2 separate regions of the Homo sapiens genome follow, and region 1 is linked to region 2. Evidence: fine-mapped expression QTL. Tissue or cell type: whole blood. Region 2 holds a variant in brackets; the other region holds the start of a gene. All regions are shown on one strand. Distances are from middle to middle.

Region 1 (8,019 bases), 35 kb before region 2:
TCACTTGAGAGTGGAAGGTGGAGGCTGCAGTGAAGCAAGATCTCACCACTGCACTTGGGCCTGGGTGGCAGAGGGAGACCCTGTCTCAAAAAACAAGCAAGCAAACAAACCAACCAAAAACATCTCTGGGGCCTGGGCCCAGAACATAGCAGGTGACAGCACTTCCTCTACTCAGGTCGCTGAGGCAGATTTGATATCCAGAGTTTTACTGCGAATCACCTACTTTTTGCCAAATATCTTTCTGTGAATGAGAGACTAAAACAAGTTAACTTTACTTTTAAAATTATATTTTAGAAATTTCAGACAGCATGAATGCAAAAAAAAACAAAAGTTTTCTTTATATAGCAGCCAATAGGCCAGGCATAGTGGCTCACACCTGTAATCTCAGCACTTTGGGAAGCTGAGGTGGGAGGACCACTAGATCCCAGGAGATGGAGACCAGCCTGGGCAACACAGGGAGACCCCATCTCTACAAAAAATTTAAAAATTAACCGAGCATGGTGGTGCACGCCTGTGGGCCCAGCTACTCGGGTTGCTGAGGTGGAAGGATCGCTTGAGCTTAGGAGGTCAAGACTGCAGTGAGCTGTGATTGCACCACTGTACTCCAGCCTGGGCAACAGAGCAAGACTCTGCCTCATTAAAAATAAAATTTAAAAAAAGGCCAGGCACAGTGGCTCAATCCCAGCATTTTGGGAGGCCAAAGTGGGTGGGTCACTTGAGTCCAGGAGTTCGAGACCAGCCCAGCCAACATGGCAAAACCCCATCTCCACTAAAAATACAAAAATTAGCTGGGTGTGGTGGCGTACGCCTGTAATCCCAGCTACTCGGAAGGGTGAGACAGGAGAATTGCTTAAACTTGGGAGGTGGAGTTTGGAGTGAGCCGAGATCGTGCCATTGCACTCCACCCTAGACGACAAAAAGAGACCCTATCTCAAAAAAAAAAAAAGCAGCAGATAGAACTTACTTGTCCTACATTATCAAAGGCAGGAATCTTGGTTTCAGTTCCTTTGTGCTGTATTTTTACCTTAACAGGCAAAATGTTCCCGTGCAAAACACTCCCATTTGAGTAGAGCCACGAGTCCCACCAAGCCAGAAACACAAGATGGAGAAATGGAGAAAAGACAGGTGGGTGTGCAGCGGGGAGTTCCTGCTCTCTGCGAGCCAGCTGGGATCTGGGCACAGCGCTCACTCCAAGATTTCAGAGCACTGGCCCAGAGCAGCCTGGGGTCACAGACCCTGGAGGAGCAGCTCTGAAGCACCTTCTGAGGGCCAGATCCCGGCCTTGGCAGTGAACAGACTAAAGTGCTCCTGGGCTTCCCCACTCTGCGGGGAATAAGCACCCAGGACGTGTCAGATGATGGTAAGTGCCCCGGAAAAAGGAAGCAGGCAGAGAGGCTGGCGCTGGGTGCAGAGGGTTTTCAGTGTTGAATGGGGACGCTGGGCAAGGGCCTGAGGCAGGGAGGAAGCGGCCAGTGTGAATGTGGGGGAGATATGGGGCTTTTTTAGGCAGAGGGAGGAGCAGGCACAGAGAATGTTTTTACAGCTGAGAACTACTCCCAGGGTATGTGGCCATAATGAGCCAAATTCTTCTCCTTTTTTTCAATCAGATCACTGTCACCCAGCACTAAGCCCTCTCACAGTACTGGGTCCCATGTGTCCTTGTGAAAGGGGAAAATGGGCTCTGAAGCAGCGAGCACAGGTACCGGCAGGCAGAACTCCTCGAAGGCCGGCTTCACGAAGGTGGTGTACTGCGTCAGAATCTGCTCCAGGTCCCTCCCTCGGCGCACGTCCCGGAGAACTGCAGCGGCAAGGGGCAGGCGTGCTTCAGACCTCAGGACCTGCCGCCAGCCTCGGCCAGGCAGGCACGGAGGCCCGCGGCCGCCTTACCTCTTCGAGACAGCCTGACGTCGGAGTCGGTGTCCACGAAGAGGCGCAGGTGGAACATGTCCCGGATCTCCTGGCTGTAGAACACCAAGATGCCCTCAAACAGAACCACGTCCGCAGGGTAGACCACCGTGGTCTCTGGTAACCTGAGGGGCGCACGGGGAAAGGGGCTCTGCTGCAGACACAGGGTCTCCAGGCCACACACACAGTCAGCTTCCATTGCAGGGACACTGACTGTGGGAAGGGGTGGGGGACCCACAGAAACCAACCGGGGGAGGCCTGCCGCCAGGCAGGTCTGTGTGAGCCCGAGGGGACGTCCTAGCTGGCCCCTCTCCTCGGCCCTCCCTAGAACCACCTGCTTACCTTGAGTGTGTCACAAAATCATAGGTCGGCACCTCCACCGTTTTGCCCTCCACGATGTTCTTCAGAGTCCTGTGCATCAAATCATTATCAAAGGCATCTGCAGGGTTGGAGACAAAGGCAAGACAGGCAGATGCCCTCGTGCAGCGGACAGCAGGGAACCCTCTCTGCTCTGGGGTCAGCACAGCTGGGTGCTGGGGACACCGAGAACCCTAGCACAGGTAGACTAGGACTACGGCAGTGTATGTTTGGTAGCAACAGTGCCCTCTGCAGCCCTGCAGACCACAGGATGACCCTGTCCTTGCTGTTCTCGGGCTGTGCCACTGCCCAAGCTCTGTGCCCCTGAGATGCCGGAACACAGGGGTTTTCTGATCAGCTCTTCCTGGGAGGTGGGTAGGCTGGGCCTCTGCTTCTCTCTCTTTCTGGGACTAACTGGTTAGACTGCGGCTTTGCAGGCCTTCTTCCCACAAGTCCTTGGGAAAAGGCTGACCATGCCAGCCAGCCAGGGTGGAATCTTCTAGCAGTGGCAGGTGTCTCCCTGCCGCATCTGCCCGTTTACCTGGCCCGGAGCTTCAAGCCACCAGCACTAGTTTACCTACCGCCTCCCACACTGGCCTCTCTGAGGACTTTGCCCCAAAGCACGGGAGGGCACAGTGGGCAGAGGTGTGTGTGGAGGGCCCTAAAGGCCCCAACGTGGGAAGGGAAGATGGGAGGATTTCTCCAGGATCACAGTTGTGGCAGGGCAGGGCAGGGCTCCCCACAGTGCAACAGGCTTCCTGACTGGCTCCAACCACGCTCCTGGGGGGACACTCAGGGCCCAGAGAACTCAGCAAAGTTCCCCTGACTTCACTGTGCAGCCAACTCCACTGCAGGCTGCGTGGCGAGTTGGGGGAACAGCCCAAGCGGGTCTGCATCCATCCAACCTTGGGCCCAAGCGCAGCTGGTTAGCGGCCGCCCAGAATGGGGTCTGCCCTCCCCACATCGTTGGGCTCGCGATTTACCTGGATGGTCAAAATTGTACTGTCCTTTCAAGGCCTTGGCCTTCTGCTCTGCCGTCAGGACCTTGTAGAACCTGTCCTGGCTCAGGATGACCACCTTCCGCTGCCGCTGTTCCACCTCGTTCTGTCCCAGCAACTCCATGATCTTCTCACACACGGTCGACTGGAGACACAGAAGCGGGATTCCCGCCTGGAACCGCTCGTCCTGTGACAGGCACGGGGCCGGCTTCTGGAGACACTGACCCACCCGCCCCCTGGGGGGTATGCTCGGAAGGCGGGAGGACACCAACAGGTGTGGATGGTCTCAGCGGAAGGGCCGCGGGGGCCCAACGGGGTTAGCACGGACTTGGGGCTCCGAGGAGCCCGGCCGGCGGAGAGGCTGTGGGGGAGCCCCGAGGCCCAGCGCCCCAACCCCTCGCCCGCCCCAGCCCGCCCCGGCCCATCGCGGCCTGCAGCCCCTTCGCTCCCGCGCCCTGCCCCTGCCTGGCAGGGGGCCCCTCGGCCGGGGCTGGGGTCTCCTCTCTGGACCGGGCCGCCCGTAGGCACCGGCGAGAGGCGAGACCCCGGCCCGCTCGGCCCCTTACCTTCCCGCTGGCAGTGCCGCCGCTCACCCCTATCAGGAAGGGCCGCTGGTGCGGACGGTCGGCCTCCGGCGCGGGGCTCTCGCAGTCTTCGCCTCCCGCCGAAGCCATCTCGGCCTCCGCTCCCGCGCATCGGGTCCCCGCGCCCGCCCCTTCCCCAGGCCCGGCGCGCCCGCCCAGCGCCGAGGTCGGAGGCAACCGGAGCGATCACTTCCGGGAGGCGCGCGGGGCACGCCGGGAGTTGTAGTCCACCGGGGGGGGGGGGGCCGCGCATGCGTGAGGGTGCAGGGCCCGAGGCCGGCACACCAGGAGCGCCCGCGTCCCATTGCGCCGAAAGCTGGCTGGCAGGGACTGCTGCGCCCGGGCCTCGAGCCGGCTACAAGGTCTCAGACTCAAGTGGCCCGGAAGGTGCCCGTTCCGCACCCCGAGGCTGGGGCTGCGCCTTCGTCCGAGTGCTTGCCTCTGCCTCGCGCTGCCTCTGCGCCAGTCCCGGGCCCTCCCCCGGCCGCCCCCGGGCCTGGCCCCCTCCAGCCCAGGCTCCTCTTGGCCATCGAGGCCTCCGGACTGTCCGGACGCCTCCCACCCCACCCGCTGCTGGAGCCGTCGGGGCGCCCCGGAACGTGGCGGGGGCTGTCGCCTGATGACTTTAGGCTCGCGCCTACAGCGCGCCAAGGAGGCAGAGGCCCATGTGCCGGGTTCCATCCCTGCCGCCCCCCCGCTCCGTGCCTGGCACAGAGAACGTGACAGGCAAATTCTGATCCATTGAAATTATGGATTTCCAGCCGGGCGCGGTGGCTCACGCCTGTAATCCCAACACTTTTGGAGGCTGAGGCGGGTAGATCACGAGGTCAGGAGATCGAGACCATCCTGGCGAACACGGTGAAACCCCGCCTCTACTAAAAATGCAACAAATCAGCTGGGCGTGGTGGCGGGCGCCTGTAATCCCAGCTACTTGGGAGGCTGAGGCAGGAGAATCGCTTGAACCCGGGAGGTGGAGGTTGCAGTGAGCCGAGATGGTGCCACTGCACTCCAGCCTGGGCCACAGAGCAAGACTCCGTCTCAAAAATAAAAAAGAGAGAGAGATAGCTAAGGCTCGGGGCAGAGCATGCTTTTCATATACAAAACAGACAACCCCGGGCGGACGCGGTGGCTCACACCTGTAATCCCAGCACTTTGGGAGGCCGAGGCGGGTGGATCACGAGGTCAGGAGATCGAGACCATCCTGGCTAACATGGTGAAACCCCGTCTCTACTAAAAATACAAAAAATTAGCCGGGCATGGTGGCGGGCGCCTGTGGTCCCAGCTACTCGGGAGGCTGAGGCAGGAGAATGGTGTGAACCCGGGAGGTGGAGCTTGCAGTGAGCCAAGATCACGCTACTGCACTCCGGCCTGGGGGAAAGAGTGAGACTCTGTCTCAAAAAAAAAAAAAAAAAAAAAAAAGACCCCAAGTCTACAGCCCCAGCTACCTCCTTATCTAATTCTCGCCTTTGGAGGCAAGATTCTCCCTGCCCTAAGTCACCCAGGGCCAGGTATCAGGTGACTAGAGACCACTCTGCAGCCCAGAGCCTGCTAGAATTACTCAAACTAGCCAATTTTAAACTCTTTCCCTGCCCTGCCAGGCCTTTTCCATGGAAACCCCAAGAAAGCCTCAGGCCTGGGCTCTCCCCTCGCCCCTGCTTCTGCCTCCTGACCAAACCTGGGGTTCTCTACTGAGAACCGTGCATGGCATGGGTGCCCCTTCTCTCAGGAAATGCGATCAATCTTGCGATGGCTTTGGCCTCTCCTCATGGTCATTCAGCCGTACCTCTGTAAATTAAGCCCCAGGCACAGAACAGTGCCTAGCAAACAGCCACGCTGCTGGCTTAGATCTGTCCAGGTGTGTGTCCCAAAGGTGGCCATCCCCCAAGCCAACTTTGAATTTGTATCAAGGGAGAGTTAGACACGGTTTCTTGCCATTTCTTCCCCTGTGGTCCAGCCACGTAGCGAAAGGCAGGGAAACTAGCAGAGTCTGACCAGGGGCTGTCCCTGATACCCCTGGCCTGGGTCTCGTGTGCCCTCTCTGGTGACTGGCCACAAGGCATGGGCTGCCAGGGCCAGTCAGGCTATTGCGTGGTTCCGCTCCCAAGGCAAAGGGACGCTTTGGGAAGGAGCCACTCCCTGGGAGCAGGCCCAGCACCCAGGAAGCCCACAGTCCAGTAAACAAGGCCCGGGCCCACACGGCTCAGGCCTCTGGGCCACAGTGGCTCCCCTATGGGACCATCCCAACCACCACCAAGCAGAGGGCCAGCCCCAAACCTCTAGCTGGTCCCCAACTCCCCATATTGTGAAGAAGAGTGACTTTTATGGGTTTTTTTTGTTCGTTTTGAGACGGAATCTTGCTCTGTTGCCCAGGCTGGAGTGCAGTGGCATAATCTTGGCTTACCGCAACCTCCGCCTCCCGAGTTCAAGCAATTATCCTGCCTCAGCCTCCCCGAGTAGCTGGGACTACAGGCACCTGCCACCAGGCCCGACTAATTTTTGTATTTTTAGTATAGAGACAGGGTTTTGCCATGTTGCCCAGGCTGGTCTCGAACTCCTATTCACCTGCCTCAGCCTCCCAAAGTGCTGGGATTACAGGTGTGAGCCTCTGTGCCCAGCCGAAGAGTGTCCTTAAAGAAGCATGAGTCAGCCGGGTGCAGTGGTTCACGCCTGTAATCCCAGCACTCTGGGAGGCCGAGGCAGGCGGATCACTTGAGGTCAGGAGTTCGAGACCAGCCTGGCCAACATGGTGAAACTCCATCTCTACTAAAAATACAAAAATTGGCCGGGCACGGTGGCTCACGCCTGTAATCCCGGCACTCTGGGAGGCTGAGGCAGGCGACTCACGAGGTCAGGAGTTCAAGACTAGCCTGGCCAACATAGTGAAACCCCGTCTCTACTAAAAATACAAAAAATTAGCTGAGCACAGTGGCGGGCGCCTGTAATCCCAGCTACTCGGGAGGCTGAGGCAGGAGAATCGCTTGAACCTGGGAGGCGGAGATTGCAGTGAGCCGAGATCACGCCACTGCACTGCAGCCTGGGCAAAAATAAATAAATAAATAAGTAAATAAATAAGCCGAGCATGTTGGCATGCGCCTGTAATCACAGCTACTCAGGAGGCTGAGGCAGGAGAACTTGAACCCAGGAGGCAGAGGTTGCAATGAGCTGAGATCGTGCCACTGCACTTTTTTTTCTGTCTGCAAAAAAAGAAAAAAATAAAAACTAGCTGAGTGTGGTGGCATAGGCCTGTGGTCCCAGCTACTGGGGAGGCTGAGATGGGAGGATTGCTTGAGCTTGGGAGGCAGAGGTTGCATTGAAGAGAAATCGCGCCGCTGCGCTACAGCCTGGGTAACAGAGCGAGACCCTGTCTCCAAAAAAAAAAAAAAAAACAAAAAAACGTTGTTGCTGAATTGGGGGGTGGGGGTAGGTGGAGAGTTGGGTGGAGGCTTGGAGCCCTCGGAGTTTGGGTTTCCCAGAGCCAGGCAAGGCAGTACTCCTAAGAGTGACCACTGTCTACTCTGGATTCATTCTCTTACCTGCTCTCTGGTGCGGGATGTTGAAAATCGGGGAGGCTGTGCATGTGGGGGAGTGGGGAGTATATAGGAAATCTCTGCACCTTCTGCTCAATTTTTCTGTGAATCTAAAACTGCTCCCCCTGCCCCCTCAAACACATGCAGTACAGGAAACACCGCTCTCCATGGCTGCCCTCCTCCCTCCTCCTTCAAGCCACCCTAACCACTACAAAAATGTCAGCTCATGCCAAGCATGTCCTGAAGCTTTTATTGAACACTAGCTGGCTCTCAGCGCTTAAAGAGATAAGCAGGTGCCTGCTGTTTTAAGTATTGATTGCCCTTTTCCCTGTAATCATAAAAGTGACTCCTGCTGATTGCAGAAAATGTATACACACAAACACACAACCAAAACTAGAACCACCCCTTACTCCTCACCCAGGGAAAAGCATGGTTTTGAGTTCTGGGGTGTGCCCTTCTGGTCTGACATGGCTGTTCTAGATAACGGAACGAGAGGCTAAACAAGGTTTGGTGGTGTGGGTTTTTTTTTTGTTTGTTTGTTTTTCGAGACGGAATCTCACTTTGTCTCCCAGGCTGAAGTGCAGTGGCGCGATATTGGCTCACTGCAACCTCCACCTCCCAGGTTCAAGTGATTCGCCTGCCTCAGCC
Region 2 (8,259 bases):
TTTTTTTTTTTTTTTTTTTTTTTTTAATACAGACAAGGGTCTCACTCCATTGCCCCAGGCTGGAGTGCAGTGGCATGTTCACAGTTCACTGTAACCTGGAATTCCTGGGCTTAAGCAATCCTCTTGCTTTGGCCTCCCAAGTAGCTGCGACCACAGGTGTGCACTGCTACATCTGGCTGATTTTTAAATTTTTTTTTAAAGAGACAAGAGTCTATGTTGCCCAGGCTGGTCTTGAACTCCTGGCCTCAAACAATCCTCCTGTCTTGGTCTCCCAAAGCGCTAGGATTACAGGTGTGAGCCACTGCACCTGGCCTAGCCTTTTATCATGTTTACCAGCTATTTGGATATCTCTTTTTACGAGGTGCCTGTTCAAGTTTTGTGCCCATTTTTATGTTTGACTGTCTTTGTTTTAGAGCAGTTCTGTATGTATTTGGGATGAGTCCTACATTAGATACAGTATTGCAAACATCCTTTCTCACTTGGTAGCTTCCCTTTTCACTTTTTTTTTTTTTTTTGAGACAGAGTCTCGCTCTTGTTGCCCAGGTTGGAGTGCAATGGCGTGATCTCTGCTCACTGCAACCTCCGCCTCCCAGGTTCAAGTGATTCTCCGGCCTCAGCCTCCCTCCCTTTTCATTCTTAATGGTATCATCTGATGAAAAGTTCTCAGTTTTGTTTTTTTTTTGAGATGGAGTCTCGCTCTGTCACCCAGGCTGGAGTGCAATGGTGCAATCTCTGCTCACTGCAACGTCCACCTTCCAGGCTCAAGCGATTCTCCTGCCTCAGCCTCCTGAGTAGCTGGGATTACAGGTGCCTGCACCATGCCTGGCTAATTTTTGTATTTTTAGTAGAGACAGGATTTCACCATGTTGGCCAGGATGGTCTTGATCTCTTAACCTCGTGATCCGCCCGCCTTGACCTCCCAAAGTGTTGGAATTACAGGCGTGAGCCACTGTGTCCAGCTGAAAAGTTCTCAGTTTTAAGGTAGTCAAGCTTATCTTTTCCTTTGTAAATAGTATGTGTGTAGGAGTATTTCAGTGGCTTTTGTGGCTTAATAAAATTTCTGTACTCATAGGACATGAAGATGCTCTTATAATGTCTTTTAGATTTAGAAGCTTTATTTTTATTTATTTATTTTTTTTAACTTTTGAGTTGGAGTCTCGCTCTGTCACCCAGGCTGGAATGCAGTGGTGCCATCTCGACTCACTGCAACCTCTACCTCCCAGGTTCAAACGATTCTTCTGCCTCAGCCTCCCAAGTAGCTGGGATTATAGGCGCCTGCCATCATGCCCGGCTAATTTTTATATTTTTAGTAGAGATAGGGTTTCACCATATTGGCCAGGCTGGTCTTGAACTCCTGACCTCAAGTGATCCGCCCACCTCTGCCTCCCAAAGTGCTAGGATTACAGGCGTGAGCAACCGTTGCCTTCCTGTGCCTGGCCTCATTGCTTATTTTCACAGTTAGATCTGCCACCAGCCTAGAATAGGTTCCAGAGCTCTATTATTATTTTTTTTTTTTGAGATGAAGTCTCACTCTGTCACCCAGGCTGGAGTGCAATGGCGTGATCTCAGCTCACTGCAACTTCCACCTCCCGGGTTCAAGAGATTCTCCTGTCTCAGCCTCCAGAGTAAGCTGGGACTACAGGCACGTGCCACCATGCCCAGCTAATTTTTTTGTATTTTTAGTAGAGACGGGGTTCCACTATGTTGGCCAGGCTAGTCTTGAACTCCTGACCTCACGATCTGCCTGCCTTGGCCTCCCCAAAGTGCTGGGATTGCAGGCATGAACCACTGCGCCCAGCCCTGTTTGCCTATTTCTTTGCCACTATCACACTTCATTATGGGGCTATATATATATATATATACACACACACACGCACACACACACACACATATATACACATATATATGTATATACATACACATATATATGTATATATACATATATGTGTGTATATATATATACATGTGTATGTATATACATATATATGTATATTTGACACATTGTCTTTCTCTATTACTAAGGCTGGAGTGCAGTGGTGTGATCACAGCTCACTGCATTCTTAGCCTCCTTGGCTCAAGTGATCCTCCCATCTCAGCCTCCCGAGTAGCTAGGACCACAGGTGTGCACCACCACACCTGGCTATTTTTTTATTTTTCTGTAGAGATGGGGTCTCCCTATGTTGCCCAGCCTTGTTTTTTTTTTAAGATAGGGTGTCAACCAGGTTGGAGTACTGTGGTGTGACTGTACCTCACTGCAGCCCCAAACTCCTGGGCTCAAGGGATTCTCCTGTCTCAGCCTCCCAAGCAGTTGGGATTACAGGCATGAGCCACCACGCCCCAAAATCACTTGTCTTTTTTTTTGAGAAGGAGTCTCACTCTGTTGCCCAGGCTGGAGTTGCCTCAGCCTCCTGAGTAGCTGGGATTACAGGTGTGCTCCACCACACCTGGCTAATTTTTCTATTTTCAGTAGAGACAGGGTTTCACCATGTTGGCCAGGCTGGTCTCAAACTCCTGACCTCATGTGATCCTCCCACCTCAGCCTCCCAAAGTGCTGGGATTACAGGTGTGAGCCACAGTGCTCAGCCCCAAATTCACTTCTTAATTCTGATAATTTATCTGTAGATTCTGTTGGGTTTTCTATACACAATGTTATCTATATATAATGAGTTGTCTTCCTTTTCAATTCTTACCCACCTTGGGTATTTTTCTTGCCTTATTGCACTAGCCGGGACCCCTATTATAATGCCGAATAGGAGTGCTGACAGCAGGCAACCTTGTCATTTTCCCAGTCTCAAAATTAAGGCTTTCAACATTTCATCTTGTTAAAAAAACAGATTTTTTTTTTTCAGGTTAAGTACCCTTCTATTCCTAGTTTACAAAGAGTTTTAAAAAACTATGCATAGATATTGAATTTTATTTTCATGTGTACTGAGAAAATGATCAGATTTAATCCATTAATATGGTAACTTATGTTACCATATTAATTTTCAAATGTTAAAATAGCTTTTCATTCCTGGAATAACTTCATCTTGATGAGGATGTATTATTATACTTTCTGTATTTCACTTTGCTAAAATTTTGTTTAGGATTTTTGCATTGTGTTCATGAGTGAAATTGGACGGTAACTTTCGTTCTTGTTATAGTTTCGGTATCATAGTTACGTTGGTCTCATCAAAAGAGTTGAAAATGTTTCTCATTTTCATTTTTGGAAGTGTTGTATAAGATCTGACATTTTCTTTTCTTCTTTTCCTTTTTTTTTTTTTTTTTTTGAGATGGAGTCTCACTCTGTTTCCTGGGCTAGAGTGTGGTGGCGCCATCTTGGCTCACTGCAACCTCCACCTCCTGGGTTCAAGCAATTCTCCTGCCTCAGTTTCCCAAGTAGCTGGGATTACAGGCGCCTGCCACCACACCCAGCTAATTTTTTGTATTTTTAGTAGAGACAGGGTTTCACTGTGTTGGTCAGGCTGGTCTCGAACTCCTGACCTTGCAATTCACTTGCCTTGGCCTCCCCAAGTGCTGGGATTACAGGCATGAGCCACTCCGCCCGGCTAAGATTTGATGTTTTCTATTCCTCATATGTTTGGGAGATGTGTGTTAGCACTTCCCACTAGAATCATAGATTTATCCATTTCTCCTTGTAGTACTGTCAGCTTTTGCTTTACATATTTTGAGGCCATGTAATTAGGTGTATACAAATTTAGAAACTGTTAAATCTGTTGGGTGTAATTTGTATCTTTACAAAGTGTTTCCTTTGTAACTCTAGCAATGCCTTTTGCCTTGAAGTCTGTTTTTTCTGATATTAATATAGCTATGCTTTGGGGTTTTTTTTTTTGGTGGACCATATTTGCAAAGTGTATCTTTCCCCAAAATTTTACTTTCAACTTTTCTGTACTTGTAACTTAATTTTTATTTATTTATTTATTTAGAGACAGGGTCTCACTCTGTTGCCCGGGCTGGAGTGCAGTGGTGGCGATCACGGCTCACTGCAGCTGCACTTCCCAGGTTTGGGCAATCCTCCTACCTATCTCAGCCTCCCAGGTAGCTGGGACTACTGGCACTCACCACTACACCTGGCTAATTTTTGTAGTTTTTGTAGAGATGGGGTTTTGCCATGTTGCTTGCCCAGGCTGGTCTTGAACTCCTGGGCTCAAGTGATCCACCTGCCTCAGCCTCCCAGTGTTGGGTTACAGACATGAGCCACCGTGCCCAGACAAGACATTTTCATGGCTGTTTTACATAGCGAGTGTTCATTTATCCACCTGTTCACTCTTTTTGTTGCTCTTTCATTCTCTCCTGCAAGTATGATCTTCCATTTGGGATCATTTCACTTCTGCCTGAGAAAGTTGAGTCTTTGCTTAGTGTAGGTCTGCCAGTGGTGAGTTTTCTGTTTTTTTAATCTCACAATATCTTGATTTTGCCTGCATTCTTTTTTTTTTTTTTATTTTGAGATGGAGTCTCGCACTTTGGCCCAGGCTGGAGTGCAGTGGCGCGATCTTGGCTCACTGCAAGATCGGCCTCCCAGGTTCATGCCATTCTCCTGCTTCAGCCTCCCAAGTAGCTGGGACTACAGGCGCCCGCCACCTTGCCTGGCTAATTTTTTGTATTTTTAGTAGAGACGGCATTTCACTGTGTTAGCCAGGATGGTCTCGATCTCCTGACCTCATGATCCACCTGCCACGGCCTCCCAAAGTGCTGGGATTACAGGCGTGAGCCACCACACCCGGCCACCTGCATTCTTGAAAGGTATTTTCAGTGAGCGTAGAATTTTGGATCGTGGTCCTATTCTTTCGGCTTTGAAGAAGATACCATTCCCTTATCTTCCAGCCTCAATCATGTCTGTTGAGGAGTCTAATTGTGGCTCCTTTGAAGGTGATGGGCCCTTTTTCCCCGTATGATTGCTTAAAGATTCCTTTTTCTCAGGCCGGGCG[C/T]GGTGGCTCACGCCTGTAATCCCAGCACTTTGGGAGGCCGAGGCGGGCGGATCACGAGGTCAGGAGATCCAGACCATCCTGGCTAACACGGTGAAACCCCGTCTCTACTAAAAATACAAAAAATTAGCCGGGCGTGGTGGCGGGCGCCTGTAGTCCCAGCTACTCAGGAGGCTGAGGCAGGAGAATGGCGTGAATTCAGGAGGCGGAGTTTGCAGTGAGCCGAGATCGCGCCACTGCACTCCAGCCTGGGTGACAGAGCAAGACTCCATCTCAAAAAAAAAAAAAAAAAGACTTCTTTTTCTCTTTAGTTTTCAAAAGCTTCATCATGCTGTGCTTTGGTGTATTCTTCTTATTTATTATCCTGCCTGGGGGTTCATAAGGCTTCTGGAATCCAAGGCTTGATGCTTCCAGTCAAGGACTGATCAGGAGACATAGAGAGTAATTTGGACAGGAAAAGATTAATATAAAGAATAACCCGACGAGAAGAGAAACTGTGAGTGCTAAAGAATGCTCTAGGGCTGAAGGTGAGTACCCAAGAAGAAAAAACTTAGAAGGGCCCAATCCCCATGGCTGGGATTGAGAAGTCACTGGAGAAGGTGTGAGTGCAGCCTACTGGGAGGTAGCACTCACTGGGCCCCGGGGCCAGAGCTGGCTCACTGGGCTGGGCAAGTCCCTTTGAGGTGCAGGTGGGCTGAGGCTGGTGGGCGGGCATGCGTTGGGAGTTGGGGTGTTGGGAACCTGCTGGCCAGCAGGGTGGCACAAGGGTGAGGTGTGCATTACCCATGCCTGGACGGCCACAGCAAGGTGGCCACCATAACACCACTGGGGCCGAAGTGACAGGTGTGCGGTAGGGGCAGGTCTCCACACATGTCTCTAGCAGCCATTGAGCCAGAGCAAGGACAAAAGGCCAGGGCCTTCCGCCAGCAGTGTCTCTCCAGCGTCTCTATTGACAGAACTTAACATGCCCACTGCAAAGGAGACCTCTTCATTGCAGAGCAGGTAATGAAGGGTGGACTTGGACATGAGAAGCAGTGACATGATAATTGGCCAGTAGGTTTAGGAAAACCATTGAAGTATAATCTACATATCATAAAATTTACTCATTTAAGTATATGATTCAGTTATTTTAAATTTGCAGAATTGTGCAACCAGCACCGTGATCCAATATTTAAGTTTCCATCATCCCCAAAGATCGTTCATGTACTCCTTTTGAGACAGAGTCTCGCTCTGTCACCCAGGATGGAGTGCAGTGGCACGATCTTGGCTCACTGCAACCTCCGCCTCCCAGGTTTAAGCGATTCTTATGCGTTGGCCTCCCGAGTTGCTGGAATTACAGCCCCGTGTGTGCCACACCGGTCTAATTTTTGTATATATATATTTTTTTCCTGAGAGGGAGTCTCGCTCTGTCGCCCAAGCTGGACTGCAGTGGTGTGATCTCGGCATACTGCAACCTCCACCTCCTGGGATCAAGCAATTCTCCTTCCTCAGCCTCCTGAGTAGCTGGGACTACAGGTGCCCGCCACCACACCCAGCTGATTTTTGTATTTTAGTAGAGACAGGGTTTTCCTTTGTTTGCCAGGCTGATCTCATACTCCTGACCTCAAGTGATCTGCTCACCTCAGCCTCTCAATGTGCTGGGATTACAGGCGTGAGCCACTGTGTAATTTTTGTATTTTTAATAGAGACGGGGTTTCACCATATTGGCCAGGCTAGTCTCAAACTCCTGACTTCAGGTGATCCGCCTGCCTTGGGCTCCCAAAGCGCTGAGGTTACAGGCGTAAGCCACCGTGCCTGGCCCCTCATGCACTTTTTGTAGTCCGTCTGTTTCCACTTCCAGACAACCATGAATCTGCTCTCTGTATCTATAAATTTGCTTTTTCTAGACATTTCATATAAATGGAATCATGTGATAACACACCCTTTGCATCTGGCTTCTTTCATGTCCATGTTTCTTTTTCTTTTTTTTTTTTTTTGAGATGGAGTCTTGCTCTGTCGCCAGCTGGAGTGCAGTGGTGCAATCTTGGCTAACGACAACCTCCACCTCCCAGGTTCGAGTGATTCTCCTGCCTCAGCCTCCCAAGTAGCTGGGACTACAGGCACCCGCCACCATGCCCGGCTAATTTTTTGTATTTTTAGTAGAGATGGGGTTTCACCATGTTGGCCAGGATGGTCTTGATCTCTTGACCTTGTGATCCACTCGCCTCAGCCTCCCAAAGTGCTGGGATTACAGGCATGAGCCACCCCACCTGGCCTCCATGTTTCTTTTTTTTTTGAGTCAGAGTCTCACTCTGTGCAGTGGCACGATCTTGGCTCACTGCAACCTCCACCTTCTAGGTTCAAGCAAGCACATCCGGCTAATTTTTGTATTTTTAGTAGAGACAGGGTTTCACCATGTTGGCCAGGTTGGTCTCGAACTCCTGACCTCAAGTGATCTGAATGCCTCGGCCTCTCAAAGTGCTCGGATTATAGGCGTGAGCCACTGCGCCTGGCCATGTCCATGTTTTCAAGGCTCATCCATGTTGCAGCATGTGTCAGCTCATTCCTCTGGATTGCTAAAGTGTTCCACTGTATGGAAATACCTCATTTTGTTAATCCTTTCACCAGCTGTTGTACCCTTGGGTCCTCTCCCCTTTTTGGCCAGTGTGAATAATCCTGCTGTGAACACTGATGTACACGGGAGTCATTCCTTGCTTCTGCTCTGACCTTTTCCTTTCTGCTGGTCCACTTACCCTCAGGACTTCTATCCCTGGGTCTCCTCCTACCTGGTTTGCTCCATCCTGTGTCTCTTCATGCTGCATTCTACCCACATCGTCTTTTTTTTTTTTTGAGATGGAGTCTCACTCTGTCTCCCAGGCTGGAGTTCAGTGGCGTGATCTCAGCTCACTGCAACTTCCACCTCTTGGACTCTAAGCGGATTCTCCTACCTCAGCCTCCCAAGTAGCTGGAATTACAGGCCCCCGCCATCACATCCAGCTAATTTTTATATTTTTAGTAGATATGGGGTTTCACCATGTTGGCCAGGCTGGTCTCGAACTCCTGACCTCAAGTGATCCACCTGCCTCCACCTCCCAAAATGTTGGGATTGCAGGCGTGAGCCACCGTGCCCAGCCCACCCACAGCTTCTAACCTATCTCCAGGTCACTAATTTTGCTCTTAAACAGTCACTGAGTTCTTCATATGAGGTATTTTTTGGTTTAGAATTTCCATTTGTCCTGTTTATATTTTCTAATTATTTGCCAAATTTCTCAGGCTTGTGTCACTCCTAGAACATAGTTAAGCACTGCACATTCACAGCCACATTTAAGAACTCCAAATTTCAGCCTTCGGGGGA

Evidence for each region. PIP is the estimated chance that this variant, and not a neighbour inherited with it, causes the effect.
Region 1: it holds the start of UCK1, and the variant in region 2 is fine-mapped to the expression of UCK1 in whole blood (TOPMed, PIP 0.98).

What each region holds. Positions count from the first base shown.
Region 1 is chr9:131,527,241-131,535,259 of GRCh38, forward strand. It overlaps UCK1 (uridine-cytidine kinase 1), which reads right to left and starts at 4,023. Exons shown (of 7, transcript NM_031432.5): 1 at 3,827-4,023; 2 at 3,246-3,405; 3 at 2,248-2,344; 4 at 1,888-2,030; 5 at 1,704-1,798. The coding sequence starts at 3,934. RefSeq lists enhancers at 1,275-2,474, 3,180-4,093 and silencers at 3,509-3,558, 3,759-4,118, 4,259-4,428.
Region 2 is chr9:131,562,401-131,570,659 of GRCh38, forward strand. No RefSeq gene overlaps it. Among named protein-coding and RNA genes, the nearest start is that of PRRT1B, 21 kb to the left of the region's middle. RefSeq lists an enhancer at 5,688-6,187. The variant C/T (reference allele first, on the strand shown) is at 4,929.